Homo sapiens: one gene and its partner. The protein of the gene in region 2 purifies or fractionates together with the protein of the main gene of each other region. This does not show direct contact. Each region holds a gene or a part of one and is shown on either strand. Other genes may lie near its edges.

Evidence for each region.
Region 1: the proteins of OPCML (region 2) and TRIP12 purify together in Homo sapiens (affinity purification with mass spectrometry; 2 studies listed by BioGRID and IntAct, with this or other methods). This does not show direct contact.

What each region holds. Positions count from the first base shown.
Region 1 is NC_000002.12:229,905,562-229,922,260, reverse strand, and holds the start of TRIP12 (E3 ubiquitin-protein ligase TRIP12), read left to right. Parts: upstream 1-251; 5' UTR 252-381; intron 382-471; exon of another isoform or gene 472-990; intron 991-13,174; exon of another isoform or gene 13,175-13,296; intron 13,297-16,699. UniProt on the Homo sapiens protein: E3 ubiquitin-protein ligase involved in ubiquitin fusion degradation (UFD) pathway and regulation of DNA repair.
Region 2 is NC_000011.10:132,649,291-132,665,989, forward strand, and holds part of OPCML (opioid-binding protein/cell adhesion molecule isoform b precursor), read right to left. Parts: intron 8,030-16,699; coding exon 7,797-8,029; intron 1-7,796. UniProt on the Homo sapiens protein: Binds opioids in the presence of acidic lipids; probably involved in cell contact.

The DNA of each region.
Region 1 (16,699 bases), on a different chromosome or scaffold from region 2:
GGGATACCAAGTAGATCTCCACAGTCCCCTTCCTGGTCCCTCGAAGGGATCGGGCGGAGATCGGAGGCTGCTGAGAGAGTCGAGCCGGGAGGCGTGGGAGGGAGGGGCGATGTGATGGGCCGCCAGTAGGCAGCGGTGCCGGTCCCGCGGACGAGCCCGTAACCGGAGCCCGAGGACAAAGTAGTTCCCCGAGGGTGTCAGAGCAGGCGGGGAGGGAGGCGGCACGGGCGGAGGCGCACGCCGGGCGCGGTGCTGCGGCTCAGCTGATAATTGAAGGAACCCGGAGCCGCCGCCGCCGCGCCGCTGGGGGGGGTGGGGGGAGCTAGTGGAAGTTACTGCCGCGCCACCGAGTCCGGACCGGAGACTTTGGGGCCTAACTAGGTAATTGGGGCGCAGCTCTGGGCGGCGGGGGCAAGCCTTGGGGGAGGGGGCCAGCTGAGGGGTTGGGGGGGCGGGGGGAGGAGCTGGAACAGAAAGTCCCAGGAAGCCCGGTTGTGTCATCGCCGCGATTCGGCCCCCGCTTGGCCTGCTCCCGGCGCCGGCGGCGGCGGGGCCGCGGAAGGACCGGGCCGGGGGTGGACGGGAGAGACGCTCGAGGGCGGCCGCGGCCGGAGGGACCGGGGCCTGGCGGGAGGTAGGGGTCGCTGGGTCCCTCCTCCGGCTTCCCGCAATGAGGAGGGCCCTTCACAGAACCGGGGTAAGGCTTGCGGGTGTTGGGGAGCTCGGCGGGGACCAAGGGGGGCCGGAAGTGGGCTTTGGAGCTTGGAGGGTGTCTGGGAAGAGAGAAAGTGGGGGGCCGGAAGTGCAGGTGGGGGGTGTGAAGACGGCAAGGGTTCCCCGGAAATGGGACGAGGGGCCCGGAAATCGGGAAAGGGGAGGCTCCGGGGCCGTGGACGGCCCGGAAATGGAAACTAGGAAGCAGCTCCAGTGACAACAGTTGTGGGAAGCGAGGGTCAGAGAAGGGAGAGGCCAGAGAGACTTTAGACCGCAGTAAGGGGTTTCCTGCCCAGGGGGACGGCGAGGGACGGTTGAGGGAGGGCGAGCCCGGAGACGGGGTCTGCGCGGGGCAGTTTTTTAAGCCGTGGGAAGTTGAGGCTGAGGGAGGATGATGACGAGGGGGGCATGCAGGGAGGCCTAAAGAAGCCGAGAAACTTGACTGAGAGGAATAGAGTATCCTTTTAAATAGATCAGAATGGAAATTGGTGGTAGGTGGGTTTAACTAGGACTTGGGGGAGGGAGGTGGGCCAATTGTCACCCCAATCGTATTAGCATTCAGAGCGAGTCAGGCGATTAATTTATTTATATGTGGATTACATAAAACCTATTATTTACAACGTTTGTCCATCAGTTCAGCCCCTCTCCTTCCTTCTCCATAGTGAGTGGGTTTCTAGTACAGGAACAAGTTAGAGGGGAGTTCGAATAACGAAGGTAGTAAAACCTCAAATCCTGTCTTCCTCGGCGTCTCTCCCTTCCTCAGAATAAGAAATCCTTCATTTCCTAGACGGAAAAATGCGGAAAAACATAAAAACACATGTAAATCGGGGGGAAATCACACTTTGAACTCCTGGTGGGGGACAGGAGGGAATTGGTTACCTTACGTGGTGAGGAGATAACGGAAGGGGCAGCTTCCAAACCCTTAAGACAAATGTTGTGTTTTTTTGATAATGCTGTTTTACTTTGGGGGAGGTTTAGCCTAAGCATCGAGTCTGGTGGTGGGCATAGTTTAATTGCTTCTTTAGTTAATTGGGGGAGGGAATGTGTTTGTGTGTAAAGGTTGGGCCGGTGCGGGGGGAGGCGGGTACGGTTAATAGCGCAGTGAATCCGTTCTAAGTGGACGTCTAACTGCTCTCCTGCTGTCTCCTTTCCTAGTCGCGGTCCTCGATCTTGCCTGGGCTGCCAGATCACCCGATCTCCGGGCTTTACTCCGTTTTGTAGGCCCTTTAGTGATGTGTTTAACTTTATGTTCCTCTCGAGAGTCTCATTAGGTATTTTTGGCATTTCATTTTTTAAAGACCTAGCAAGTTGAGTCTCAGAGTCTCCTCTTTAAAAACAAAACAAAAAATACGGGGTAGAAAGTTGAAAGAGCTATTGAGTGGGGTAAAACGACGCTCAGAACAAAGGTCCTAGTTGTGTTAGAAAAAAAGGCAAGAGGCCTGTATATGAGGCCTGTGTGTGTCGCATTTACACCCCGGGGGGGTTGAGGAATGGAATTAGCAGAGGTTTAGAGACAATAAATTGTAGAGGATTTTATTGAGGCTGATTTTCATATTTACCACATGCAAAGTGATCAATATTAAGTGTAAGTTTTAAAGTATACAGAATTTCTAATTCTTTCTTTTGACACTTCCTGCTGTGTGTTCAGCCCCAGAAATGTTGAACTGCTGTGACTATCTTTGTGAGATTGAGGGAGTTTTATTTTAAGCTTAAGAGTACATAATATGATTGGGGTTTGTGGGCTTTGTACATGTCTGCCTTTCTATGAATGTGCCAATATCCATAAGAATTGGAAAACTGTAATTAAGATTATCATTGTTTCCATTCAATCCCCAGTTTTTCTGGAGTGTGAGCAGTTTTTAAGTCTGTTCAGCTGACATTTATACTACTTAGTTTGAGTCTATGAACAGGCTTTATTTTTCTTTTTTTTTTTCATTTACTTTCAAAAAGTTTGAGAACAATTTTGGCAGTTAGGTTCCAGAAGGTGCTAAACTAAAGTAGTTACATTTAAAAAACGAATGGGATGCTAGGTAGATCACGGTAAAATCAGTACTTTCACCTGGCAAAGTAAATTTGTAGTAATGTATGATTCCATGTATGATTCCTTTCCCATTGTAACTTTTTTTTTTTTTAAAGCAGAATCTTGCTCTGTCGCCTAGGCTGGAGTGCAGTGGTGCAGTGTAGGCTTAATGCAACCTCTGCCTCCTGGTTCAAGCGATTCTCCTGCCTCAGCCTCCTGAGTAGCTGAGATTACAGGCACGCGCCACCACGCCCGGCTAATTTTTGCATTTTTAGTAGAGACAGAGTTTCACCATGTTGGCCAGGCTGGTCTCGAACTCCCGACCTCTCAGGTGATCCGCCTGCCTTGGTCACCCAAAGTGCTGGGATTGCAGGGGAGAGCCACCACGCCGGCCCCAGTGTAACTTGTAAGATTATTGTATTTATGTTATCTAGACAAGGTTTTAATATCCTGCTTTATTTTAAGGTTTTCATCTTAGCAAGGAAAACATCACTGGCTTGGAAATTCACACACTACCAGTTAGTAGCTTTGTGACCTTGAGCTAGTCACTTAACCTATCTGGTCTTCATTTATTTTATCTGTAAAATGGGAGTGGGTAATCTCTATTTTACCTCACTGGGTGGTTGTGAGACCCAACAGATGTAATGACTGAAAAAAAACAACATGCTAAATAAATTAATTTTAGAAAATTACATGAGCTGTTTTGAGGTCATTTTTAAAAGATACAGCTTCTCATTAGTCGTGGTGGTCCATGGGGCAGGGGAGAATTAATGTAAACTAGGTTGAAGGTACAGAGTTATAGAACTTCATAATTTGAAATTGCTGCTTAATTGGTAGTAGAATTTGGGTCTCATTTTTGTCTTTTTAAAGTTACCTTCTTTTTTTGGTATCAGCATGCCAGATACTTGTTTGCCATACATTCTACTGAAAAAACTTGTTAATATGTTTAAAGAAACTTCAAATTCATTTACGTTTTTTATTGACAAAGTACCTGTTCTGGTTTGTGACTCTAATGAAATTGACTTAATGTAAGAGATTACAATTAGGGAATAATGCTTCTGAATCTTGGTCACTGTTTTCTTTACAGAACCTAGGGAACTTTCCCCCCTTTTAAGTGGATGGGTAGGGATCTTTTTGAGCAAATGTGATACCAGTTGCTCCTTTATTTTTTTGTTTGCTATTTGATGGACTCAAGTCAAAACAGCAACCTACTTGGTTTTTTAATCTTCACTGAAATCATTCCTTGCAATTGCCTGTTTGACATGGACTTTTCCCTCATTTAAATCAAGCAAGCACCCACTATGTACAGAAAAACATAGAAGATAAAGGATGTGAAGAACAACTTACAACTCATGTCTTCAGATCACTTCCTCGAACAAGTTTCTACCTGTGATCTTTGTATTTCTGATTAACTGTACTTGCTTCGTTTCTGCATTACAGTATTGCATTTGTTGACATGTGTTGCTTTTGTTTCCCTGATTGGACTGTAGGCTTCCTGAGGGCAAGGATGATTTCATGTCAATGTGGTATGTGTGAAGGTATACTAATAAACCTGATTGGTCTGGGTGAGGTGGCACTGGAGGTGAGGACGTGGGAGGATCGCTTGAGGCTAGGAGTTGTAGCCCAGGCAACATAGTGAGACTGTCTCCACAAAAAAGAAAAAAAAAGTTAGCTGGGCATGGTGGCATGCATCAGTAGTTCTAGGCAACTTTGGAGGCTGAAGCGGAAGTATTGCTTGAACCCAGAGATTTGAAGTTAATAGTTATGATCATGCCACTGGACTCCAACCTGCTTGGAAGGGTTCTTTGACCCCAGCAGATTCTTCAGAATGCTTTCTCTTGGTTGGTTCAGTGATCAGGGCCTCTTCACATCTCCCCTGACTAACGTGCCATTAGAGTGCCTGGATGGATATCAACTGTCACTGCCATGTTTTAGTGTTAAGCCAGTGGATTATTCTGTGCCACTTTTTTCATAGGCCAAGCTTTAGTTAATAAGGCCAAGCCTGAGGAGAGTCCAGGCCAGATAGGGTGGAAGAGTAAAAATCTGGTGGATGTTACAGAATAAATATAATTTTTAGATTGTTGTATATAATCTTAGTGCTTGGTAATTTTTTTTTTTTTTTTTTTTTTTTTTTTTTTTTTTTTTTGAGACAGAGTCTCGCTCTGTTGCCCAGGGTGGAGTGCAATGGCGCGATCTTGGCTCACTGCAGGCTCCGCCTCCAGGGTTCATGCCATTCTCTTGCCTCAGCCTCCCGAGTAGCTGGGACTACAGGTGCCAGCCACCACGCCCAGCTAATTTTTTTGTATTTTTAGTAGAGATGGGGTTTCACCTTGTTAGCCAGGATGGTCTTGATTTCCTGACCTCGTGATCCACCCGCCTTGGACTCCCAAAGTGCTGGGATTACAGGCGTGAGCCACCGCGCCCGGCCAGTGCTTGGTAATTCTTAACGTGTAGTGTAATGTAAGCTTTACTTGTGTATTTTCTTTTGGTACTTGTGTATCATTTCAGCAGCTGTGTTACAGACTTGAAGACATAACCTCAAAGCAGTTGTTCTCTACCTCTCTGCTGGGTTTCTCTGTGCATAATGGATGCTTGCTGTTATTTGTAATAAATAGATAAGTATACCGATGCTAGACCTGTCCCTTGATTTTTCTTTTTTTTTTTTTAAGTAAAATTTAACTCTGCTAATGTCTTGGGTTTTTTAAAAATGTAGTTCTTTAATATCCTAACTTACTGATAGTTTTAGGTTATTGGCAAAAAGAGGTTTCCTAGACTGAAATAAGTCTGTTCAGTCATTTTTCTCTGAGGCCTTTTAGATTTTGGTTGTTTATTGTGATTTCAGTGATTTCATTAAACTGAATTGGATAGAAGAAAAAGGAACTTACCCATTATTCAGGCTTACCTGCTTTGTCTTGAGAGTGCAGAAGCTATTGGCAGTAGTCAGTTTCATGGTTATGCTTGTTCGTTTGTTGAGACAGAGTCTCACTTTTGTCACCCAGGCTGGAGTGCAGTGGCGCGATCTCGGCTCACTGCAACCTCCACCTTCCAGGTTCAAGTGATTCTCCTGCCTCAGCCTCCCAAATACTGGGATCACAGACGGGCACCTCCACACTTGGCTATCATGGTTATGCTTGATTTAAAAAGTCATTCAAATGGTCTAGAGTGAAAAATACCTGCTACTGTGTGTTTTCCTTAATAGCACTGTTCAAGTGATTATCTGATTTGAAGGCAAGACTTAGGTTCCAATCCTGGCTATGCATTTCCCATCTTTGTAACCTTGGGCAAATAATTTAACTTAGTACTTTGTGAGCTTCAAGTGCCTAATCTGAAAAATTTGATTATTACCACCTAATGTAGAGTCAGTTGTCATTTATATGCTAGACATTCTGTATTTAGATTAGGCTCCACAGATGAATTGGAACACAAGGCCCTTTCTCCACTTGTTTACAGTACTGTGGACCATTGCCTCATTTGTTAAAACTCTTTTAACTCGAACATACCTCTGTTATATGCATAGGTATCCTACTTGAAACATTTGACCCAGTGGCTCATGCCTGTAATTCCAGAACTTTGGGAGGCTGAGGCAGGAGGATCACTTGAGCCCAGGAGTTTGAGACTAGCCTGAGCAACTTAGTAGAGACCTTGTTGCTACTAAAAGTAAAAAATTAGCTGGGCATGGTGGCACATGCCTGTAGTCTTCAGCTACCTGGGAGGCTGAGGTGAGAGGATTGCTTGAGCCTGGGAGATGGAAGCTGTGCTGAGCTGTAATTGTGCCACTGCACTCCAGCCTGGGTGACCGTGAGACCCTGTCTCAAAAAATTTTTTTTTTTTTTTAGTATACAATAGTATTCCTTAGTTGATTATGAATTCTTTAAAGTCTTTAGCCCTCACCCTTTTTTTAACTTTTATAAGGACACTAATCCCAAGTAGTGTCCCTTTTTATCTCTGCATCTAGCACAGTAGCTGGCCCATGATAGGGATTAAGCGTTTGTTGACAGAATAAGTCTTGTGAAAATAAAATAAGATACTGTAAGTGGAAATATTTTGTAATGGCTTAATGTCCTATTTTTAAAATTTTGATTCTTATTTTGCATCGTTAATGCTAAAATGACTTTGAGACTTTTAGTCAGTATATATTTTGGAGACTGCAAGTTACTTTAAATCATACATTTTAAAAAGAATTAGGGCAAGCCATTTTGTTACTCTTTAATTGACCATTATGTGCATGTAATAGTTGATAAAGTACATTGAGGACCTAAATAAGTTTTTTTTTTGAGATTGAGTTTCGCTGTGTTGTCCAGATTGGAGTGCAGTGGCGCAATCTTGGCTCACTTGTAACCTCTGCCTCCCGGGTTCAAGCAATCCTCCTGCCTCAGCCTCCCGAGTAGCCGGGATACAGGTGCCTGCCACCACACCCAGCTAATTTTTTGTATTTTTAGTAGAGACAGGTTTCACTCTGTTGGCCAGGCTGGTCTTGAACTCCTGACCTCACGTGATACACCCGCCTTGGTCTCCCAAAGTGCTGGTATTACAAGAATGAACCACTGTGCCTGGCCAATATGTTTTAATGCAGTGCTAAATGATTAGTGTTTCCAATTTATAATAGTATACATCATTGTAGTTTATTCTGTTTGTTTCTTTTTAGAGAGCATGTACATATTTCTATAAATATGGTGTTATTACCCATACATGGATTTTTGAAGGCTATTTATAAGCCTAAGTGTCCATCAACAAGCCTTCAAGACTTGAAGTTACAGCATTTCAGTGTGTATTTTAATCAACTTGTTGGCTGTCATAACCAATGAGTTCTACCCTGACTTCAAAACTCCTACTCACTCTAGCCGTGGGCAGTGCTCTGAATAAATAGATGTACCTTGTGCTGTGTTCTTAAGGTCAGATGAACTTAATTTAAAGATTTTATACTGGTAAACATGTGCGATGCCCTGGAAACCTAAAGTGAGTTTTCACAGTAGCCCATCTCTTGAAATTCTCTCTTCAGTTGTAATTTAAGCTACTTTGTGTCCTTAGAGAGCAGGTTCATAGAGATCATATGAATGTCCCCTACTTTTTTTGATTCTCAAAAACCAAGTGCTTCTAGTAGCCTTGTAAATAGGAAATATATGCAAATGCTGTCAACTTCTCAGACCCCAGTGTTTCGTAATTCTGTTTTACATCCTTGGCTGCAATCAGATTGAACTGTTTCTTCCTCTCTGAACACACCCAGCAACTTTTTAGCATTTTTGCTTTGGTTTTTTGTCTACTTGAATTGACACCCCCTCTCACATCTTGTATCTATTATTTTTATTATTATTTTTATTTTTTGAGGCAGAGTTTTGCTTTGCCGCCCAGGCTGGAGTGCAGTGGTGCGATCCCGACTCACTGCAGCCTCCACCTCCACCTCCTTGGTTCAAGCGATTCCCTGCCTCAGCCTCCTGAGTAGCTGGGATTGTAGACTGGTCTCCAACTCCTGACCTCAGGCAATCCACCCACCTCGGCTTCCCAAAGTGCTGGGATTACAAGTGTGAGCCACCGCGCCTGGCCTGTATCTCTTAGAAATATATATACTTACACTTAACTTTCTTCCAGTGACTCCTTTAAAATTTTTACTCCTTACTCTCCTATTCTCCTTCTGTAACATATTTCAGGATGACTTTCACGTTCTGTCTTACATAATTAGTTGTTTACATTTTAACTTAACTGGGTTTTTGGCCTCTTCAAGGTAGAGATCTCATTCTTTTATCTTCACAGTGTCTAGCACAAGGCTTCCAACATAATGCATTGTACATGGTAGGTGTACGTGGTAGTGTGTTCTGGTGTGACACATTGAGAAACGATGTTGTGAAATAATATTAGCATCGTTTGCCATAATTTACTTGCTTGTTTTCATTTTTCAGGGGTTGGCAGCTGAGTGTAGAATATAAATTTTTCAAAATTAGGCTCATTAAAATCAGCTACTTAAGGAATTGTTAAGACCCTAGAATATTTTAGTTAGTTGGTTACCCCAAATTTAGCATTTGGAGATGATGTTTATTAGTAGATGATGATTTATTTATCAATACATATTTATCAAGTGCTTACTGTGTGCCACAATTGTGCTTGACAGAATATAAAAGGGACCTGAAACTTATTCCTTGTCTTCCAAGTTCTGTTATGTTTCATATAGTTGATATTTATCTTATTCCATCACAGCTTATTTGTCTAAAACTGTATATAGGAGTATAGTATTTAGCATAGAGAAATATTCTGTAAAATTCTAAATGTAGATTTTCTGCATTTAGAAAATCTGATATTAGAATGTAAATTAAGAAACATGAATTAGGGCATGATTTGTGGCTATACTAAATAAATTGTTGAAGCATCTTCATTTACAAATATTCAGCCAGGTGCTGTGGCTCATGCCTGTAATTCCAACCCCTAGGGAGGCTGAGGCAGGAGGATGATTTGAGCCCAGGAGTTCAGGACCAACCTAGGCAACACAGCAAGACATCATCTCTACTAAAAATAAAAAATTAGCCTGATGTGGTGGTGCATGCCTGTAGCCCCAGCTACTTGGGAGGATTGCTTGAACCCAGGAAGTTGAGGCTGCAGTGCGTCATGCCACTGCACTCCAGTCTAGGCCACAGAGTGAGACTCTGTCTCAAAAAACAAAAACAAATACTCATCAGCAGCTAATGTGAGTGCATATCTGGTTCCATACAAGATCTGCCCTCTTAGAGGGTGCTGAAAAAGAAGAGATTTATAAAAGGAGATTCCTTATCTTGAAATGTACTTTGTTGTAGATGAGTTGAAACTTACGACTACAGCACACAACATCTAACATTGTGCATATTTGTTATTAAGTACAAGATCGAGTTTTATACAGTGGGTACTTGGAAGTTTAGAGAGGTTCAGTTCTGGGTTGAAGTTACTTAGGAAGACTATGAAGAGAGAGGGGCTTAAACTGGCCCTGATTGTTTGGAGGAAGATATAGAAGAATGGGGAGCTTAAAGGTGTAATTGTGGTGAGGATCTAATATTAAGGTAAATGGGCTCTCTGGAGTAGAGGGTCCATATATATGAAATAACAGGAAATTGGGCTGAGATTATTGAAGTTCTTAAATGGGAGATCACGGAATTAGATTTAACAGATTATGTTGAATGATTGTTGATCCCTGAATAGGTGATGTGAAAAAGGTGTACAAAAATATTTATGAATGAACTGAAAACAAAAATAAAAGTGCTTTTAGATGTCATTTTTTATGACAGTGCTTCCCTTTCTGATACTACATATAAAAGTTTTTGTATTAAGTTTTGGAGGAGATAGAAGTAGTGAAGGTAAAACTTCTTGTTTTTTCCTGTTGTTTAAAATGTTAAATAAGCAGAAGCTGGTTTATTGTCTAAATGACCCACACCAGTCCTCTGTTGGACACAGAAGTCTTCCTTTAGTGGAAGCTATCAGTCATTTTGTCTCAGCACATTCAACTGTTGTTTGTTCAGATTTTTTGTAATTCAAAATACTTTTTGATACCTAATGCATGATTTTTTGTGAGTTGTCCTCAGTAATTTGTAAGTCTTATATAGGGAAACTTTTGCTTAGCGTTCAATACAGTGAAATTATGTTTAAAACAAAAGTGAATTGTGGCTTAAATATTTAAATACTTCTGGTTTTTTTTTTCTAGCCATTACTGACTCTGGGATAAATATGTAAATACTTTTAAAAAGTACAAATTAATATTACATAGTTTAATCAAATTAAATATTCTAATAAAATATTCGCTTTGCACTCTGCATAGTAGAGTTGTTACCCCTTTAATTGTTTTTAAAATTTTATTTTGACACATAATATGTATGTATTTATGGGGCACTTAGTAATGTGTCAATACATACAATGTATAGTAGTCAGACCAGGGTAATTAGCATACCATCATCACAGACACTTATTATTTCTTTGTGTTGGGACATTCAATATCTTCCCTCTAGCTATTTGAAACTGTATATTAAACTATAGTCACCCTGCAGTGGAATAGAACAGGAGAACATACTCTTCCTATCTAGCACAGTTTTATATCCTTTAACAGATACCATTACTTTTATACAAGTATGTATACAGGATTTTAAAAATGAGAAGTTAGGTTGTATGGTGGCTGAAGAGAAACTAAAAACAATTTTTTTCAGTGTTCTGATAGCTATGATATTTAGCTTTCTTTAGCAGCTTTTATTTCTGGTGTGTTCTTACAGACTTTCCTAATTGCAGTTTGGATTAATTTGATTCTTATGTAGAAAGCAGAGATGCTAGCTATGCAGATTTATGACTCAGAATTGTACCTGTTTGTAGAGTAAGGAAGGCTGTATTGTCCAACATTTTGTGGACTTTAGAATAAAAATATTCGTGAAGTCTATCTGTTTTACTGCTGTAGCACAAGAGTGCCTGTTTTTCTGTAAAACAGCCACCCAGCTTCATATATTTTTTCCTTTATATGAAGCATGTATTTTCATTTCTTCCCACCTAGGGAAAGCAGCTTAGTCTCAAGGGAATTTGACCCTGCTCTCTACCCTTCCACCCCAGGTCCAAATGCATTTGTGCCCTTCCCCCAGTAGATGGCAACAAGTAGGCTGATGTTTAAGAAGATTCAGTAGTCTTAACTTTGTGATCAGACCTATTTACTAATTATTTCTCAACTGTCATTAGTAATGTTAGTGTTGATTTTCACATTCTGGCCTCAAAATCCTTTCAGAAAACTAGACTGTTAATTGCAGAGTTCATCTTTTTTACTCTACTCTTCATCCTGCCTTTTGAAAAGTGTTGCCTTTCCAGTTGCTGCTATGAACTAAGACTTGGGGTATTTCAGCCTTTGGTGTGGTGCTGTAAGATAATCTCCTTCTGCCTCTTCTAACCATCTAGTATTACTTTTCAGCTGCCTGTATATTAGGCCATGACATTTTTTCCAGGTATCTTGTCATTACAGAAAGTAAGGACTACTGAAAGGAATTACTGAAGAGCTAATACACCATCATTTTATATCTTCATTGTGGTACATGTTTTAATTGATACTCAGTTTATTTCTTGAATCATTTAAGGAATTGGTAAACTTATGTTTGCTGGAATACCAGAGTTTCTTTCTCTTCTATAAAATGGGTCTACTACCTAACTCATGTGTTTACTGATATTCAGCCATAGTGTTACGGTTTTGTTTCTTATTACTAAAAAAGAAAATGAAGGTGATTCATAATTACAGAGTTAACTTCTGAGAGTTTACTGTATCTCAAGAAACTTAGAACTTTTTCATGATTCCTGCTGAGTTTATTTAAATTTTTAATGCAATAGTAAAGGATTTGGGAAGTTTTCCATATTTCTTCAGACAGTTGTAAAGTTAGGAATGGCTTAATCTATCTATAGTTATTTTAAGGAGTGTAAAATCAAGGACTTAGTAAAACAACAGTTCTAAAAAAATTCTGGAATTGTTTCTATTTTAAGGGCTAGTATTAGAATCATGGCTCAAGGAAAGGAGTTATCTTGGTTTCAGCAACTGCTGCATTTAGCTCTTAAAGGTGTTGCTTGAATTGCATGTAGCAATACTCTCAAACCTAGAAAAGCAATCATTTAAGGCATGTCAGTGCAGTTACTCTAGCAGTGGATATGGAATTAATACATGTGAATTATAAGCAAATGGTATATATATATTTTTTGTTTTTAGAGTTGGGTGTCTCACTCTGTCTCCCAGGCTGGAGCATAGTGGTACAATCATGTCTCACCATAGCCTTGAAAGCCCTTGGATCTTGTGATCCTCCTGCCTTCACCTCCTGAGTAGCTGAGACTACAGGCTCACACCACCATACCTGGCTACTTTGTTTTTTTTTTTTGGTAAAGACAGAATCTTGGTTGCCCAGGCTGGTCCTGAACTCCTGGCCTCATGCAGTCCTCCTGCCTCAGCCTTCTAAAATGCTGGAATTATAGGCATGAGCCACTGTACCAGGCTTTTTTTTTTTTTTTAGACAAGGTCTCAACGCTGTCACCTAGGCTGGAGTCCAGTGGCACAGTCACTGCTCACTGCAGCCTTAACCTCCTGGGCTCAAGCGATCTTCTCACCCTAACCTCTTGACTAGCTGGGACTACAGGTGTTCACAACCACATCCAGCTAATATTTTAATTTTTTTTTTTTGTGTGTGTGGAGCCAGGGTGTCCCTATGTTGCCCAGGCTGGTCTCAAACTCGTAGGCTCAAGTGATCCTTCCACTGTGGCCTCCCAAAATGCTGAGATTACAGGCATGAGTCACCACTCCTGGCCCTTATCAGGGTATAATAAGTATTTTTGAACACTTCTTATTTCAGGCCCTAGGCCAAGATTTAGGATTATAAAGATATATAAAATGTAGTCCTTGGCCTGGAGTTTACAGTCTTAAAGGGAGAGTGGTAAACTTGGACAAAACTAACATAAAATCTCTTTTTTTTTTTTTTTTTTGAGACAGAGTCTCACTCTGTCACCCAGGCTGGAGTGCAGTGGCGTGATCTCAGCTCAGTGCAACCTCTGCCTCCCAGGTTCAGGTGATTCTCCTGCCTCAGCCTCCTCAGTAGCTGGGACCACAGGTATGTGCCACTGTGACTGGCTAATTTTTTTTATTTTTTGTAGAGGGGTCTCGCTATATTGCCCAGGTTGGTCTTGAACTCCTGGCCTCAAGTGATCTGCCCGCCTCGGCCTCCCAGAATGCTGGGATTACAGGCATGAGCCATCATGTCTGGCCGCATAGCCTCCCAAAGTGCTGGGATTATAGGCGCGTAAGCCACCATGTCCAGCAGCATAAAATCTTTTTTTTTTTTTGAGACGGAGTCTCCCTCTGTCACCCAGGCTGGAGTGTAGTGGCGCAATCTCGGCTCACTGGAAGCTCTGCCTCCCGGGTTCATGCCATTCTCCTGCCTCAGCCTCTCCGAGTAGCTGGGACTACAGGCGCCCGCCACCACGCCCGGCTAATTTTTTGTATTTTTAATAGAGACGGGGTTTCACCATGGTCTTGATCTCCTGATCTTGTGATCCGCCTGCCTCGGCCTCCCAAAGTGCTGGGATTACAAGTGTGAGCCACCGCGCCCGGCCTAAAATCTCTTAAACTGAATTGTGAGACGTTACGCGGATGCTTCATAAGATGACCAACTGTTTGGAATAAAGAATATGGTAAAAATACTACCAAGATATTTCTCAGAATAGTTGCATTATTTGCATCTGTATATATTTGCCCACCTTGAATTCAGATTTAAATTCCTGGTTCCCTTTTTGATGTATCACTTTAAAAGGTATATAATATAGTCTAATGATCTAGGTCAGTCCACTGGTGTGGAAAATGAATGGGATAAGAATATTAAGAAAAGGCATCTTGAATAATATTAGCAACTAACCTGTGTTGAATCCTTCCCTTGGCTCAGGGCTGGGCCTGTGGTACTTTATATAGCTTAGCACAGTCTGCTGGTGGAGGATAATGTGATAATGTATGAATAATGATAAGTTTAGTGAAGTGGGTAAGAGCGAACACTGAGATTCAGTTTAAATCTAGGCTCCAACATTACTAGTTGAATAACCTTTTTTTTTTTTTGACACTAGTTCTCCCATCTGTAAAATGGAAGTAAAAATAGTATATATATCCTGATTGTTATGAGGATTAAATTAGTTAATATATGTAAAACATTTAAAACAATGCCTGGTATAGGATAAGTGCTTGCATTTGTAAACTATTATTATTATTAATTTGTTATTTTTTTCTAGAGATAAGGTCTCTCTGTTGTTTAGACTGGAGTGCAATTGTGTGATCATATCTCACTGCAGCTTCGAACTTGTGGGCTCAAGTGGTCCTCTCGCCTTAGCTGTGGAGTAGCTAAGACTGCAGACATGTGCCACCATGCCTGGTTAATTTTTTATTTATTGTAGAGATGAAATCTTGCCACGTTGCCCAGGCTGGTCTTGAACTCTTGGCCTCAAGCAATCTTCTTGCCTCAGCTTCCTCAGCATTGTAAGAATACTATTTTTAGTAACCATGCCTTTTGAGAGACAGTGTTTTTATTTTCCTTTCCTTTGCATCTGAAAAGACAGTTTTGAGAAGATGGATTTTTCTGATACTATCTTGGAATTATTTGAGTGGTAGAATTTTAGAGTTGAAATGAGATCATTGCGAGTGTTATGGACTCTGCAGCAAGATGAACTTGGGTTCTAGTTTTTCCTTGTTTGACCTTGAGCATGTTACTGTGTAAAATATAGAAAATACATACTTTTCAGGATTCTTTTCAGTTTTTAATGAGTAAATGAAGTTCTTACCTAGCACAGTGCCTGGTTCCCAGTTGAGTGATCAAATAGTATTTGTTTTATTGTAAATGTTAATAGTTCTCCTAAATGGTGCCTTATTTTCACAGTTGGTGGCAATGTATAAAGTTACAGTCAACAGTGTGTATTTATTTTTAAGATGTTATAATTTAGGTTTTGAGTAAATTTAATGGACAATTAAAATGGAATCTAAAAATTGAAAGGAAAAATAACCCTGACCCAGATTACACACTTAGAAAAGTTTTGTGGGGGGCTGTTTCTAAATTTGATTTAGGTTCAGGTGTTTTATCACTGCTAATTATAGTCTCTTTGACTACTTACAGTTTCAAATAAATAAGGTCAGTGTTAGCAGTGTGATATGGCATACATTTTTTGATGTCTTTATTTTGATATAGTCTCAGATTTATAAAAATCTTGCAAAAATAGTGTAAGGAACATCCCATATTCCTCTTTACCTAGTTTCAAGGTCTTTTTTTAATCGCTAGAGGATAAATTTCTTATTTTTTTTTCTTTTTTTTTTTTTGTTTTGAGGTGGAGTCTTACCGTGTTGCCCAGGTTGGAGTGCAGTGGTGTGATCTTAGCTCACTGCAACCTCTGCCTCCCAGGTTCAAGCAATTCTTCTGCCTCAGCCTCCCAAGTAGCTGGGACTACAGGTGCCCGCCACCATGCCCAGCTAATTTTTGTAGTTTTAGTAGAGACAGGGTTTCACCATGTTGGCCAGGATGGTCTCGATCTCTTGACCTCATGATCCACCCGCCTCGGCCTCTTAAAGTGCTGGGATTACAGTTGTGAGCCACTGAGCCCGGCCTAATTTCTTTTTTTTTAATTAATGGAAGTCTTTTATTTATTTTTTTTTTTTCAGAAATAGATGTAAAACCTGATGAAGAAAGATTCATGCAGTAAACAGTAAACATGTTTCTTTTCTTTTCTTTTTTTTTTTTTTTGAGACAGTCTCATTCTGTCAGCCAGGTTGGAGTGCAGTGGCACCATCTCAAGCTCACTGCAACCTCCACCTCCCAGGCTCAAGCAGTTCTCCTGCCTCAGCCTCCAGAGTAGCTGGGATCACAGGCGTGTGCCACTATGCCCAGCTAATTTTTGTATTTTTAGTAGAGACAGGGTTTCACCATGTTGGCCAGGTTGGTTTCAAACTCCTGACCTCAGGTAATCTGCCCACCTCGGCCTCCCAAAGTGTTGGGATTACAGGCGTGAGCCACTGCGCCTGGCCATGAACATGTTTCTTTATGTGGTTCTTCAACAGTTACTATATAGGTGTTGATTTTTCAGAATGTTCTGAATGCACTGTAATGTTTTGTGCCTGAGTTGTGGCCATCATTAGTGAACATTGGTTTATTATACTTAGCCTTAAGGCCCTCATTGGCTATTGGATACTCCTAAATGGCCTGCTTTTTATAGAACTTAATTGCTTTGTGCAGTGCATGTGTTCTCTCCTTGCTCTGATTGGTGGGCGTCTTGGTGTTTAGGCACTGTGAGCTACACCCTCCTCCCCCAGCTTTTAATATGCATTGAGTTGCAAAACTACTTTCTAGACTTGTGTACCTTAAGTTCAGGGTAAAGGCTTGCATTATGTGGCTTTAAGACAGTGATAATTTTGGTAGCTCAAAGGTATTTTTAAAAGTATATTCGTTATTCTCAGCACTTTGTTACCTGAAGGGATCAATAATGCTT
Region 2 (16,699 bases):
CTGTGTTGTGAACTGTGTTGTCACCAACCACACACAATGTCATGAAAGGTCACAATCTAGGAGACGCGTGAAGGTCAACGTCAATTATACTCTGGCTACGCAAGGTGTCATATTCGTTAATATCTGAGAAACACAGTAGTCTGAGAGCCGGGATAGGACCACGGCATGGTGGGGTGAGTGTGGCCTTGCTCTAACCCTGAGCGCAGGGGGCGGGGCAGGTGCAGAAGGTGGTGTGGGGACACCCTCCCAGTGAAGGGAGACTTGAGATCCCTTCCTTTATGTGTTATAGAGGGTATTCTGGACAGTAACTTCATTCTTGATTCCTTCTGTGTTGTAGTTGCCTTCTTAGTTAGCCTAACTCTTCCATAAAGCATGTGTATGTATACACATATACATATATACACCTCAAACATTGAACATGTATATGTGTATATCCAAGCATATATATGTGTATCTTTATATACTCGTATACATATATATGCTTGATGTTTGATGATTTCTCCATTGATCAGGTCTCTTCTCCCATTGTTGTGAGGAGAAATATGTTGGTTGTTCTGCTCTGCTTAGGAACTAAGACATACAGAGGTACCACGTACACACTCACACTCACGAATGCCCTCACACATACACGCACTGTTACACACACACACACACACACACACAGTTTTCATGTCTGTTTCTTCTGCAGTCACATGCACACACTCACACAGTTTTTATAGGTTGTATGGCTCTTTCCTCTGTGGCCTCTGGAATTCCACCCCACTGTCCATTAAATATGTGTCCGCTTGACGTGGGTTGTGGAGGTTACAAATGTTAGAGAAGAACTTGGAAGCAAATGGTATCTTTCTCTTCCACCTTCTCTAACCAAAAAGTGAACAACAAGGTTTACAGTCACCCCTAACTAGCAGTGTTAGTAAGGGACACTAAATCCTAAAGCCTCTGGAGAAAAATACAAATAAGAAATAGTAGGAACAATGGCAAAAGACTGCGATTACTTTCACACCAACCTAGTAATTGTGCCATCGGCGGGTGAAAGTAGGAGAGACACAGAGTGCAGAGACTCCTGGTCACACACAAATTCCCAGATGAATTACACTGACAAGTTGTCACACAGAATAACTAGAAAGGACTTTCATATCATCAGTTCAACCTTTCCATTGCAAAGTCAAGGACATGACGCCCAGAAAAGTCCTTAACCTAATTTTGGCTGTGTGCTTTATCTGCACTAATATACAGAATTTGCAGCTTAGAGACCCCTTCTCAGAATCTTATTTCCAATTGACATACACACACACACACACATACACACACAAAAAAAACACACACAGCCACACATGGGATTAAAGTATGCATATGTGCACATAAATAAATTACTCTGAATTCTACTCTTCACCCCATGTTAATAAGCCAGGAGAGGAACGTCTTGGAGATGCAGGCCTGCACTTTTAGGAGCCGAGCGCAGGGCTGAGGAGTGAGCATTCTGCTGGCCTGTCCTGTTGTTTTCCACTCTTCTATCCTGTCTTTGTGAAGAGTAAATGTGATTACAATTTTAAGTAGCGGTTGAATACATTAAATTTATTTCAGGTTAACTGCCTGCTTTTCTTTAAGTCTATAAGCACACATGTTCATTTAAATGTTTGGGTAATATTTAGGAAAAGAGGAGAAAATAGCCTAAAAAAAGAGATTGCTTACAAAGAGTTGAAAATAGGGAAATCCCTGGCAAAATTGTGACCTATGGCTCTGCCTCCCTGGGCCTGCTGCAACCGCTCCTTGGTGCAATCCCAGCATCCACCTGCTGCCCCAACCCCAGAATTGTCACCTCAGGGCCCACCCTTTTCTGGAGCACCTCTGAAGGTTGACATTTTTCTCACATAAGAACAAGTACCTGTCTACGTATTTAACTCTGAGTCAGTGGTGTGTTGAACACTCTGGTGGCTACAGAGTAAATATACCCGGTCTTGGGTGTTGCTTTGCCACTTCCTCGCTAGTGTAACTCGGACAAATCACTTCCAAGTCTCTGAATCTCACTTTCTGGTCTTGGAAAGGTGTGCCTTTCTATTCTGTCATGTGGGGCTTTTGGGAAGCATAATCAAAAGAGATAATGCATATAAAGTACCTTGTTAACTGTTTGTATTTTGATAACTTTTTTTCTCGTGAGAAAAGCTTAACCTCGATGAGTAAGTCTAGTGAAGGGGATTTAAAGCACGCGGCAGCTGCATCAGCGTTGGGTAAGTTGTTAATCTTTCTAAGCCTCCATTTCCTTATTTGTAAACATGACTAGGGTGGATATTCTGTAGAGTGGATAGATGTAAGGAACGGCTGAGATAACGTTTATACTTAGTGCACCCAATGCTGAGGTTGGTTGGTGATCAGCAATATCTAGGACTGGCAGGGCTGGGAACACATTTTTCTTTACAAGCAAAACTCAACTTCAGATACCAACCAATTTCACCTGAACTGACACCAGGCTAAGAGATGTAGAGTCTTTTGTTTACATAGAAATTGCATAAGCTTGCTGTGGAGCCTCCTATGTAAGAATTTAATAAAATTCATCATTTCCAGCCCTTTGCATAAAATTGGGCTTAGCAAGAGGAGTTCATTCCATAAAAGGAAGTAACCTGTAGTGAAGAGATTTCTGAACAAGGCAGGAAAGCAGGTAGAGAATACCTACATCCAAAAAGCAACCATAGACGGATCTTCTTACTCCATCTATCTCCAACAAACAACGACAATGACATACCACTGGCACACATAGATCTCTGCATTCTTTCAGAGTGCTGAAGAGCTCATGACAGTTAGAATGACAATGAGATTCTGGATCCACAGAGGGTCCAGGGTTTTCAGTACTTACATAGGATAAAGTGGTAACATTTAAAATGCATATCCCTGAAGGGATGAGCTACTAGAAAATTAATTATCCTCTCTTTGCCCCCCTCACAGCCTCTCTACATCATTTATTGTAGCTTTGGTGTCCCACTCCCACCACTAATTTTCTTTCTTGAGCTTTGTCCTCAATTTCTGTTGCTACAATGCAATATCAATAGAAGGAAGAATGACAAACACACACACACACACACACACACACACACACACACAGAGAGAGAAATCCTGAAAATGTTCCATTGATCTAGAGCAGAGAACTAACTTTGGATGTTGTTGGCATTGGAGGGACTGCAGAATGCTGAAAAGACACTACTCTGAAAGTCCTGTGGCCATGGTTCAAGACCCAGCTCTGCTACTTACTCACTGGGGACTCAGCCAGGCTCTTAACCTCCATGAGCTGCAGTTACCTAATTTGTAAATGGAGATAACGGTCACTGCACTACAGCCTCCCAGGGCTTGTTGTGTGAGTCAAAGGTGACAAACACTGTGCCATCTCTGTAAAGTACTAAATAAATGCCTGGAATTTGTGTTATCCTTTTAGAACAATCTCTTAGCTTGTCACATCGAGGACCCTCTCCCCTCAGGGACCTTTCCTCCATGACTGTCCTCTCCGAGTCATCTGGACATAGTCTGACTTCCCTGCCACCTGTATCTGCAGGAAGATGCTTTATGATCGCTGTGTTCCTATGCCACTCCAGTAGCAACATCAATCTGCTTCTGCTCATTGTACAAACATTTGCTGAGTGCCTACTGTGCCTCAGACGGTGTGCTAAGTGCTGAGGTTGGATATAAATAAATTATGATTCTTACTGTTATCTACGAATAGTTAACCTCAGAACATTTACCTACTCTCCAGCCAGGAAATTCATGCTGAATCTCAAATATGCCCTTTCTGGTGTTAGGTTACACCTGTTCCCTAGTTCTGCAACATCTGTGTAATGTTTGTGTGTTGTTTATCTCTAGACCTCGTAAGCCCAAAGCTGTTCTTTCCGAGTGGCATAGGATCGTATCTCCCCAATCACTAGCATTTCTCCAAACTAAAAAATCTGGGTGATATCATTTTAATTCTTCCTCTTTCCAGGTATGAGGATGAATGCTCTCAGTTTCCTGTGGACAGTGCCTCTCAGGCACCTCTGGATCTTTTCAGGTAGGCCCACGGTCACCCTGGCTGCACTGCTTAGCGGGGATGGGAGTCACTCCTGCCTGCGCTTGTGCCTCCAGCTTCTCCCGCTTTAGCTCCTGCTCTGCGGGGCTGCCAGGCTGATTTTCCCCCCAACTAATCCGACCCCACAGCTGAGCATCCCCCTTGCTCCGGATTTCCTCCACACTGAGGTGTGCAGCCTAGATCACATTATCACATGCTCACACGGTGCCTGTGCTGATCCCCTCAGTGGCTGAGATGTACCTCAGGTATCAGTGACACGATTTTAATGAAGGCAGCTTCTGTTCTCAATGAGAAGGATTTGGAAATTAGTTCCATCAGATATGTGGCAAAGGCTGCCTTCTACAACAGGAAAGGGCAGGCAGGAAAGTTGGTGGCAGAGTGTCTCTCAGGCGCTCCCATGGCAGGAGGGATAAAGCTGAGTCCCTTAGGCGTGCACTCCCTTCTGCTGATGGCATCTGGTTGGCAGAAGAAATGAGATACCCACCTTCTCAAATGGACAGAAGATACATAAACACCTTTTGTTTTTATAAACAGACAAGTGGCAGCTCGGAAATTTTTCTGTTTTCTCTCATTGCAAAATCAATACCCATCAGCAGTTTGAAATTAAAGGCAAGATTAGGCCTCAGTTTTATACATGCCTTATTGTCTTCCAAAAGCTTTCTACTCAGTCAGATAAATTTTCTTTAAGAGGATTAGGAAACTTTCATTATCTTTATCTAACCTGAACTAACACTATGTCTGAAAAATTAATCTATAGACTGGACAAAAGCTGATGCTGCTGGGAGAAGAACTCTGGGGCTTCTTTCTAACTGAGTAGTGGGGTCTCTACATCCACCCTCTGGTAATTCAACTGTCTTCCAAAGAAAGAGCAAGTCACTGGATCACTAAGCAAGAGGAAATAATTCAGCTTTCTGATCTCCTTCTCTGTGGCCTCTCAGTAAAGGTACAAACCAGCCTGCCAAGGATCCCAAGAGAATGTCCTCCCGAAGAGAAGATCTTCCCAAAGAGAAGCTTCTCCCCAAGAGAACGTCATCATCAAGAGAAACTCCTCCCCAAGAGAAGATCCTCCCCAAGAGAATGTCCTCCCCAAAGGAATGTCATCCCCAAAAGAAGATCTTCCCCAAGAGAAGCACTTCCCCAAGGGAAGCTCCTCCCCAAGAGAAGCTCTTCCCCAAGAGAAGCTCCTCCCCAAGAGAAGCTCCTCCCCAAGAGAAGGTCCTCCCCAAAAGAACATCATCCCCAAGAGAAGCTCCTCCTCAAGAGAAGCTCCTCCCCAAGAGAAGCTCCTCCCCAAGAGAACATCATCTCCAAGAGAAGATCTTCCCCAAGAGAATGTCCTCCCCAAAGGAATGTCATCCCCAAAAGAAGATCTTCCCCAAGAGAAGCTCTTCCCCAAGAGACGCTCCTCCCCAAGATAAGCTCCTCCCCAAGAGAACATCATCCCCAAGAGAAGCTCTTCCCCAAGAGAAGCTCCTCCCCAAAAGAATATCCTCCCCTCCCACCCCCACCCATCCTGACTGCCTCTGGACTTCCCAGGCCACCTCAGAGGGCTGGAGCCAGAGAGTAGCTTGGCCTGGAATGCGGAGACTGAGGAGCTGACCTCTGAAATAGATGCCATGCTGTCCTTAGACTTTTTCTGACCTGAAGCTTGGAGGTCCACAGGGAGACCCCACAGGCTGCCACATCCCACCCAAGGGATCGCTCAGCATGTGTTATGGAGAACATCCTTCTCTGTTGCTCAGCCCCCAGCCCATTATGTTGTGCATTGACTTTGATTTGCTTATATCATCTATCTTCGTTCTTGAAAAGGGATAGGCTTGCTCTGTTTGAGTCTGTTTCTCTACAGTGCCTGACAGTTCTTTTTTATTTCGGTGCCACATTTCCTGAATTTGAAAATAACTTTGCTGTCAAGGCCACAGAGGTGCCACTGAGGTGGCACTTCCGATGCCGAGAATGTCAGCTCCTCTGGAACCAAGCCCAGGTGCAGGCAGGTGGGGTAGTGAGAGCTCACAGTCTTTTGTTTTCTACACCCTCAGAAACGTTCAACAGATAGCCCAGCTCATCTCCGATGACTGATCTCACCAAGTGCCTCTGTCGTCCTCTGAGGAGAAGTATCAGATGTGACAGTTGTCTTGATCTCCAGATGGCAGGCAGTCTTGTCACTCCAGAGCTGTGGGTGGACGTGTATGGAGAGTGGAAACCCGCAGCATCTGTAGATGTCTGTCGGATGGCGTGTGTGAACGCCTGAAAGCACGCGAGGAGGGGAGCAGGGCTTGGAGGCTGGGCAGGAGCAAAGCTTCAGGCAGCATGGCAGTGCCAAGGACTGCTGGGGAACAGCAGTGACAGCAGACAGCTCTCTGGCCCCACACATGCCATTACAAATGGCTACAGAGGCAGGCCTGGCTGCTTGCGCCAAAAGGAAAGAATGGGCAACCTGAATCATGCAAGTGACTGAAGCATGAATAGACAGCCCCCACGCAACCTCTCTCTAGGAAACCAATTGAAATGAGCAACATCGTGGTCCTTTTTTTTTTTTTTTTTAAATCAGAGATGAGGAATCTATCTTAGCTAAGCAAGGATGCCATACACATTTCACAAACTAAAAAAAAAAAAAAAATTCTGTTGGATCTATGACAGATGGGATCTGATAAAAGGCAGATGCTAAAGACTAAATCACACATAGGGACCCTTTCTGAGAGCTCACTGTGTTTCCTCAAGATATCTGCAAACGAGGCTCTGAAAGAAGTCCACCCGAACCTTTCATTTGGTGGAGGAAGGATGCATCACTGGCTGACGGAACTAATGTGCTTACAACTTCATTCCTGCCGTGAGCCAACACCTGACAGAAATGGCTTTACATGGTGATGATAGTTGGGGTCAAGTTCAAAATAAGTTCATTTGGATTGCTGCCTTGCTTTAAAATGGTTCTCAAATTCTTGGAACTGCTATCTGCATGTGTTTTTAATTCTTAATATTTAATATCTGAGAATCTGACATTTCTTCAGCCCCATTTTTGAGGTGTAATATGAAATTTAAATTAAAAACTATTTTAAAATGCACGTGACACAATTCCTGGGCTATGTCGATTCAAGTTTTTAAAGGAGAATGGAAGAAGATGCTAAGTCTTCCTTCCTCCTTCTCCCTTTTTAAAATTGTCTGAATTTATTACTAACATTAACCTGCAGATATCATTCTGACTAATATCCCTCTTGGATCTGGACTTCATTGTCTGGCTATGAGAGAGTGTTTAAAGACAGCAGCAATGCCAGGGAGGACCTGCCTAAACAGCACTCAGAGACCCCTCCAGAGCATGCATGACCAGCAACTGTGCGAAAACAGTCATGTCACGTAGTTTCTCATTGGCATTATTCGTCTTTTATCATGAAATAAGCCTATAAGAGAATTAAAAGGCACTGAGAGTAGTACTGTATTTATCTATGTTTGCATGTATCTCACTCCAGCTCCAGAGTGCTAAGTAACTTACGAGAGCTCAATACGAGTGCATGTTACACAACGTATTGATGAGAACAGAAGGACTAGAGATAACATTTAGAAACTTTGAGAAGATATTCAGCACTTAGTTAAGTACCCATTCGATGGGAAACATTCCAAGACATATAGTCAAACTCTGAATTCAGTAGAGGAAGATGACTTTTGTGTCTTCGCACACAGGTAGAACAAACACCAACACTGTTCTTCCCCTCCATCACTGACGGGAATGGCAACCCCAGATCCAGCTGGGACTTACCTTGCACTATTAGGTGAACCCGGGACGTTTTGGGATGATTGTCTGTCTGCACAGAGCAGGTGTACGGACCTTCGTCATACACATCCACATTTTGGATCATGATGCTGTACTGGGTTGGTGTATTGACCAGGATGATCACACGAGGGTCTATGGACCACTTGTCATTCCCAGCGTAGAGGATGGTGCTGCGGTTTAGCCAGGCCACCCGGGTTACCCGGTCATCTATGGTACACCTGCAGTGAGGCAGGGAGTGGTGGAGGGAGGAAGAAGGGAAAGAGAGAGAGTGGAGAGATTATATAATATGGTAAATAAGACGTTGCATTTTGAGGAGTAAATGAAACAACAAAACACAGTGCTAAAAGGAAACAATTATTGATGAAACTTCCTAAATATAAACTAAGAGTGACCAGAATCATCTTGAAGAACTGACAATACAAAATCATTTCTATTTGACTTCGAGACATATTATGTATCTTTGCCATCCATTTGCTTTCCCTGTTATTTTTTTCCCCATAGGCTTATATGAAAATCAGTTTATGTTTCTTGAGCACATTTACCACCTTGGGGAAGAAGTGGCCCAGGGGCACATGGGAGAGAGAGTGGATCAGCATTTCAAATAGGTCACAGATAACCCACAAAGCAAATACTTAACTTGTAGTTAATCAAAAATTGAACATATTTACCTCCAGACCTCCCTGGTGTTGGTAATCTCCTTATACCCCTAAGCAGCCGAAAGCCTGCAAACTACAATTTATAACATAGGTTGGTAAAATTCACCTTAGAAAGCCAACACTTCTTGAGGAAGTCAAAACTGCATCTTAGGACTTCAGGAGAGGAAAAAGAAAATTATCAGCAGAATCCCTGTTCCTCATACACTCCCTGTCCCATTGGGAGACAGAACAAGGCTATTATCAAAGCAGGGAACTGTGCAACACCTCTCACCTACTCTCCTTAACAATTCAAAGCTATGAACACAAACAAGGCCTGTGTGTCAGTGTGGATGACCTGCAGGCTGTCAGGTCTGATATAGGACTGAAAGTGTTGGACGTCTGCGCATGTGCCCAGGAACTGAGGACGTGGGAATGGAAGCATGAGGAAACAGAATGCTTTCTAAGTGTGGAGGCACACCCATCACTCCATGCTGCACATAGGAATGCACAAGGACAACCACTCTTGCCAATGTCCTGGCAGAGAGAGGAGGGACTTGAGTCCAGCACCTGCAGGTGAGGAGAACACGGGGAATAGGCATGGCCTTCCCTCACTGGATCTGACCTAACACTTGGGTGGCAGCAGTGATCCTTCAGGCAGGTCTCAGGAGATGGAAGGACCCCAGAGACACTGGCCACAGTGGAGATGTCAGGACCTGGCCAAGTGACCAGTCTCACCTGGCCTGCATGGCTCAGGGTCTCCAAGCACCAGAACCATGACCCTCTAGAATGGGGAAAGCACCTGATCTAGGGCGGTCCTCTCCCTGGTTGGTAGGAAGAATAAAAGCAATACCAGCTTCCGGTCACCCAGGCCTTTTTATGAGCTGGCCCATCTGCCCTTTAGCCGCTGAGAAGTTGGGTAGGGAGGGTGTTAGGCACTCTCACAATATTGCAGGAAGACATTGTTCTTTTCTAAATAAGCATGTGAACAATACAAAGTGAATAATGCATGTAAATAACACTAAGATGATACAGACCCATCTAACCATTCACTCCTCACCAATGCCCAGCACCCCATGGTGATTTGCTAGCAACTTGTTATATCTCAGTCTACATCTTACTCCTTATACACATGCATGAACTTGTATGAAGCTTGTGCTGATTTGCTTTCACCTGAAATAGAATCATACTCTAACATTCCAATGAAACTATTTTTTTTTATTTGACCACAGGCATCCCTTGCACACCAGCAGTTACAGACCTCAATCTGCATACTTTCTAGGTAAGCGAGTTTCCAGGGCCCAACTGCATTCACCAGTAGGACCTGATAATCTAGGTACCATCGAATGATTCTTTCACATCATTATAGAAATGTCATTGGTATAAAGAAAAAATGAAGTCATGTTATCTCCTCCACATCGTGAGGCATCTTGCTTCTTTTCCTGTTGCTTTCTTACTTCCATAGCATTTTTCTATTTCCCTTATGAAGACCTAATGGATCTTAAACGTTAATGGATCCTCCCTGCTCCCCACTTTCAAAGGCTTTTCTTGGGGAAAAAATATGATAAATTTATTCATTCTCAGTTGCAAATGACTGATAAGGGGAAATATGCAACCTTTCCTAAGGATAGGTGAATTTTCATAAAGGAGAAATCCCTGTTTGAAGAGCTCCTCCTAAAGAAAGTTCAAATAGTAGAATTCCAAAAATCAGCACACCTGGAATTAGATGCTAAATTGAGACAGAGTGAAGGGCGTGATGTTCCAGTCGCTTCTAGTTGTGTGGTCTTCTAGTCACCACACAACCCAAGTGACTAAGTGCAAACAAATATTGCTTTAATTTTGCTTAGTTATGTAACCCCTTGCACATTCTTAAGTTGCCATAAAAAATTGTAAGCTACAATTGAAAAGGATGATTTTTTTGGCCTTTAGAACATATTCACATTTAAAAATTTTTTTAAGTCACAAAATTCCTGTGTGTGTGTGTGTGTGTGTGTGTGTATTTGTTCAGTAGAATTTAAATATCACAGTGATTAACACTCCTGATTATCTGCTTTCAAAATTCAGGAACTAACTCTTTTTCTAAAAGTCATAACACGTGCATTGTTCCTTTTTAAACTGGAACTTGTTTTTCCACTATATATCTTCTGCAGAAAAATGTACTTTATGCTTGAAGGTCTTTTATTGATCACCTACCATATTTATTTGCAACCAAAAATATACAGAGATTGAAATTTAAATTTCTTTTATGTCCTATGACCATAAAACTTTAAGCAATAATATATTTCTTAAATGAATGATCATTACAAATATAAAATTGATAGAACATAAATATAGAGCACATTTCGTTAAGCAATAATTAAACATGAAAAAGCAAACTTACTAGAAATATAGCTTTTAATAAGAGGGATAGGCCCCTTTTTTTAAATGCCGTAGATAAATATCACTCACTGCTAGAATGAGATGGAGTTCAGGATCAATTCTATTCCTACTTTTGCTTTTAGAGAAACCTTGTTCACATAAGAAGATGGAAATGAAAATTGTGCATAGCAATGCCAACTCAATTATTTGAATGCTTTCCAAGATATATGCCAAAAATCACATAGTAATATAGCTTCAAAGATAATTTCAATGATCTCGCAGCTGACAAATCAATTAATTCCTCTTTCAATTTATTTTAATGCAATGAATTGGAAAATACCTGACTCGCAAAGGGGTTTATAACATGGCATCAAATTCATTCAATTTCTCAGTATCTGGAAAGTATATGATACCATTTTACCAGGCCTTATCAGATGGCTGCAAAAAGATGTTATTCTTTTACTGGAAGTGCCTTGTTTAACCCAATACACTCAGAAATGTTGGGAAAATACAAATACTGTTTATTTTAATATGCTAAATCACCGAGCCCTCTGTTAGGACATGTCTCATCTCCAAGTTCTAATTCTAAATGGAGAATGCACTAGTTTGCCATGAATCTGTTCCTGATGCAATCAGGTGCCATTGCCTTTAGTGCCCTGCTTTGCTTCTGTGGGAGTCTCCTTCAAGACTGATACCCTGCTCCATGACAGTCGGCTGATGGAGGTGACAAAGAAAGCCAAAGAAGTTTATCTCCTGGACGAAGTGTGAAGTGGGAGCTGTCAGAAGGGAGACACAGAATTACACTGCAACCTCAGGCACTTACTCAAGCAGATCAACTTTAGGGAATTTGAGATCTTTGAAGTGCATTTCCTGAATCCTATCGTTGTCCTTGTATAGGACCAACCACTTCAGGTTGAGGGTGCATAGAACCAGTGCAAGTGGCCACAGGCTTGAGTAAGGGTGGACTTTGAAAAAGGGCAATCCAAAACTACTCTGTGGGCCAGAACACACTGTCATTGCCCTAGCCACACAGCCCTTGGAAAGCCTGTGTGTCCCTTGGGTAATCCTCTCCCTGGTGAGTAGCCATGATCCGGTGTACTTGCTCTTGGACCTGGGCCTCCTTATGGGCCTGGAGTAGAAACAGAAAAGAGTAACTGAGTAAAAGCCATCTCTCTAAATGGGCAAAGATGGTTCACAAGTTTGTATGGTTCTCAGAACCTAACAACAGAGAAACTGAGGGAAACAATGAAATCAGTTGAGGAAAGTTATTTTCCTCATGATGTTGCTCTGCTTCAAAAGAAAATGTAGTTTCATGGCTTCATGCTTTCTTCCATCACCATAGGACTCTTCCATAGTCCCCTGAACAGCAGGAAAGAGAACTCAGGGAAGGACTTAAAAAGTTGGCTTGAGTGCTCTTCTAAACTCAGGCTCCTTCCCTGCTGTCTGTGGCCGTGTCCTGGACTCTCATTAACAAGAAGCACAGAGGGGAACACTTTTGAAGTTAAATAAGGGGGAGCCAAGAGGCAAGTTGAGGAAGGCTAATGACAACTTTCTGATGTCTTGGAAATTATTTCAGATATTTAAAATTCTTACATTCCAAGCTAACCCTACCTACTGATCCTTGATAAAACAGAACTCATTACAACTACATCACAAGTAACCTCTAAAATTATATATTGCTTGTACTGCACCAGGCATAGTTGTAAGAACTTTCAATATATCAAATCATTCTATCCTAATAACTACCCTTTGAGATGTGTTCTATTAATATTATATCCACATTTTACAGATGAGGAACCCAAGGCACAGATAAGAAAAAAGGAAAGCTATCTGGAAGACACTTGTACACATTCTTAACCTCTAGCCATGTGTGAGGAAAGAAGGTATAAATGAGAGTCTGGAAGAGCAAAGAAATGCCTGACAGACATCAGAAGGCAGAGATGTTTCTGAATATGTACCGTGGGGTTAAGATTCAGGGTCGTTTTGTTTTGTTTTCAGAGGAAGAGGTGAACTTAGGGAAATCCATGCCTTAAAGCAGTGGTTTTCAACCTTTTCTGTGCATCAAAAACAGATTGCTGAAGCCAGCCCCCAAAGAGCTTTTGGTTCATGGGTCTGGAGGGACCAAGAATGTGCATTTTCAACAAGTTCCCGGATACTGCGGCTCTGGGGACTCCTCCTGGAGAACCACTCACTGCCTTAAAGAAATGAGGCAAGTGACAGGTTGGAATTTTAATCAAAATAATCACTGAAAATTAAAATCAATTGGCTTTAACTTTTTTGTGTTCTTTACTTTTGTTTTTATATTTTGTCTTTGAAAATGCAAAAAAAAAAAAAAAAAGTGCCAAGATTCATTCAACAGATATGGAGTGAGTGCCTAAGGTGCATGAGATAACTTCCTAGGAGCTGAGAACACAGTAGGAACAGGCCGACAAAGTTCCTGCCCTATGAAACTACACCTAGTGAGAGACAAATAAAGTATGTATGTCTAGATATATTTGTTTCAGAAGGATACCTGGATAAAATAAAAGAAGGTAAGGAATGGAGAGTGTATCATGGGAACTGTGGATATATTTGGAACAGAATTCCCAAGAAATGCCCTTCCATGGCCTCATGCCAGACGTTGAATGGTTGAATGTTTATAACTCTAAAGTTGGGTGCAATAAGATGCATGTCCGAAAATTGTGTCTAACTTTACAATGAAATTCTCATCTCACATACAGGCACAGATAGCTGCAGGGACATTTAAGTGATCTGGGTAGTTGGAGAACAAGTCTTTTAAACCAGCCTCACAAATGGTGTCCTCATATATTGAGGACTTTGTACGTGTTCAAAGAATTGATAATTGATATTTTGATAAACTGAGAGTTAACTAGAAAATGCCTTTATGTTTCCTCCTTTGTTACGGTAATAATACCTAAAACAGGGTGCATACCTTTGTGTTTTAATTAGTAGACAATGGCAAATGTAGTTAAATCTCTAATTCAGACTCCATTCTCTTTGTAATATACGGATAATACCAAAGATCCTAGACTCTTCATAGAGCTTACATCACTGAATTTAATTATTTATACTCTCATGTGTTAAACTACGAATGTCACATGGATAGTAACCATATTCAGTATCACCAGCACCTCCCAGCCTCTACCCAGGAGCTAGTAGGTCATCAATACATATTTATAGTGATAAAAGGTGTAAGACAATGTTTTTCAAATGGGCATCAAAAGAACCCACATAAGGAGACTTATATGTGGGGACATATATGTGTCTTTCTGCAGGATAACTGAATCTATATCTTTATCTGTATCTACATAGACACACATAGAGTCCATGGGCTCTTTATGTATATTTTTCAATTTAGTGTTTTCATTTCTATTGTAATTGGGAGATGTATAATATAAACCTATGCTAGATGTGGTATGACAACAATTAAATTTAAATGTTCAGATTTGCACCTGTGTTCACCACACTGGCACATTGAGAAGTCCTTGCATCATATCAGGCTGATGACAAAAATACAGAGGTGACTGGCTTTGTCAGTGACGCCTTCCTACCAGCAAAAGCTGAATGATATGGGCTCCACTGTAGTAATGAAGGTTCCCAAGCGCTAGAATGAGCCACTGTGGAAGGAGAACTTCGTTATCACAGGATGAGCGTGGAACCCAGAAGGGCAGGCCTTACAGCAGTCAGTGCCACATCCACATTGCAACCTGGGATTTAATGTTGTTTTTTTTGTTTGTTTTTGTTTTTGTTTTTTGTTTTGAGACGGAGTCTCACTCTGTCGCCCAGGCTTGAGTGCAGTGACGCGATCTCGGCTCACTGCAAGCTCCGCCTCCCGGGTTCACGCCATTCTCCCGCCTCAGCTTCTGGAGTAGCTGGGATTACAGGCGCCCGCCACCACGCCCGGCTAATTTTTTGTATTTTTAGTAGAGAGGGGGTTTCACTGCGTTAGCCAGGATGGTCTCGATCTCCTGACCTCATGATCCGCCCGCCTCGGCCTCCCAAAGTGGATTTAATTTTAATAAAACATCATCTGTTCCATTAAGTTAATGTTCCAAGTTTAAATTTTAGTGGCTATATATGTGCATAACTTATAATTTCAGAAGTTACAGTCATATCAGAGTGTAAGCTTAAGGCATTTATACCTAGTTTTATGATTGCACATATATAAAGTTTTTTTTTAATAGTTACCACTGGAAATCCATGAAAATCTTGTCTCTCTTCCCATCCTTGACCCCTGCTTTTAAAGTGGTCTTCTATAGAGTACTCAATTTAAGAAATGCTGGGTGGAATTTTAAAGCCCGAAATGCATTTCTCTGAATTTACTTTTTTAATACATTCCCCCATATTATCTTGTAACTTTTTGGTTTTCCTTTTATCATTTGCCTTTTTCATAAATTGAGAGTTAATTGAATTTTTGCTAAGAAAAACCTGACTATGTATCCAAATATATTAATAATGCCAGTCCAAAAACTGGGAGGAAGACCTTGCTTTAATAAACTCATAAACCAGTGATAAATAATTTTTTAAGGGAAAGAAGAACAGGCAAGCCAAAATGAAATATTTTTAGATCAACTCCCAAGGTATTCTAAATTGCAAAAGCTGTTCTCCCAGGAGGCTTTAACTACTCATTTATTTCCTGAGTTACAAATAGAGCCAACTTCAGAGCATCAACAGGGACCCTAAATTATGTAAGGGAAAACTTTATGATTCAGATAGTTGGAAATGCAACGAGAGTAATCACTCTGCTAGAGCTAATATTTGCTGATAAGGTATTGGTTGAGAATGTATCTGAAAGCCTCTGCAGAAAAATGGTGAGGGATAAGAGCTACTTAAGGAGAGTACAGCACAAAAATATTTCAGTAGTGCAACGGGTTGACTTTGAAATCTGACATAACATGACATCTGCCACTCGCTGGAAAATTGGAAGACAGTGCCACACTAACACCAGCTGGAGGGGAGATGTCACATTAATACATAGGAAGGGTGCATGCCCACGTGTGTGTGCATGTGTATGTGTGTGTGGAGCGGGAGGGGAGGTTATGCAGAGAAAACACACTAATGCCTTCAACGTGAGGGCCTGCAACATGAGGACATAGAGTAGTGGAAACACAACCAAGGGAGGTTGCAGGCTTTCCTGAAAACAGCATCACCTGAGGCAGAAAATCAGCCACTGGATGATAATGTGCTGCACTTTCAGCCATGTCTGATGATAGATGAGTCCACCAGAAATTGCTCATTGTGTCCTGACGCAAACAAGGGGAATCTCTGGTCCCCACAAGCACAGTGAGGGCTCTACCTGAATGCAGAAAGCAATTTCTCACACCACGCAAGTGAGGCAACTGTGCTGACGGCAGCTCAGAACAGAGTATCTGATGCCGGGAAGGAAAATGAAAGGAGTGATTTATATGGAAAGATGGCTCCACAAAGAGGCAGAAATTGCTTACAACTACAGAAGTGGGGTTAAACTGCTTGGCTGTGGGAGGAGAGAGGAGGAGAATTCCTATCTTGGTAAAAGAAGTAAAGCGTAGGGTAGCGAAACACAATTATAAAAAGTAAGGGTGAGCAGAAAGGCCAGAGAAAGCTCTCTGAACAAAATAATGAATGATTGAGCTGGTTTCTTCCCAGGCTCCAAGTCACTCTATAAATCCACAGGGTATGTTGAGGAGATCACATTACTAGTTTCCCAAGAAGAGGTAGGCAAGGTTGAAATAAAAATAACAACAAAAAACATCTGAAAAGGCAATACCTGCTTTGAAGGTCCTTATGATCTCAGACAAATGATAGAACACAAGAGTATTACAAAGGCACCCTATCACATTCATGGATACAATAAAAAGTATACATCTGTCCATTTGTTTAACAAATATTTAGTAAGCACCTGCTAAGGACCAGACACTG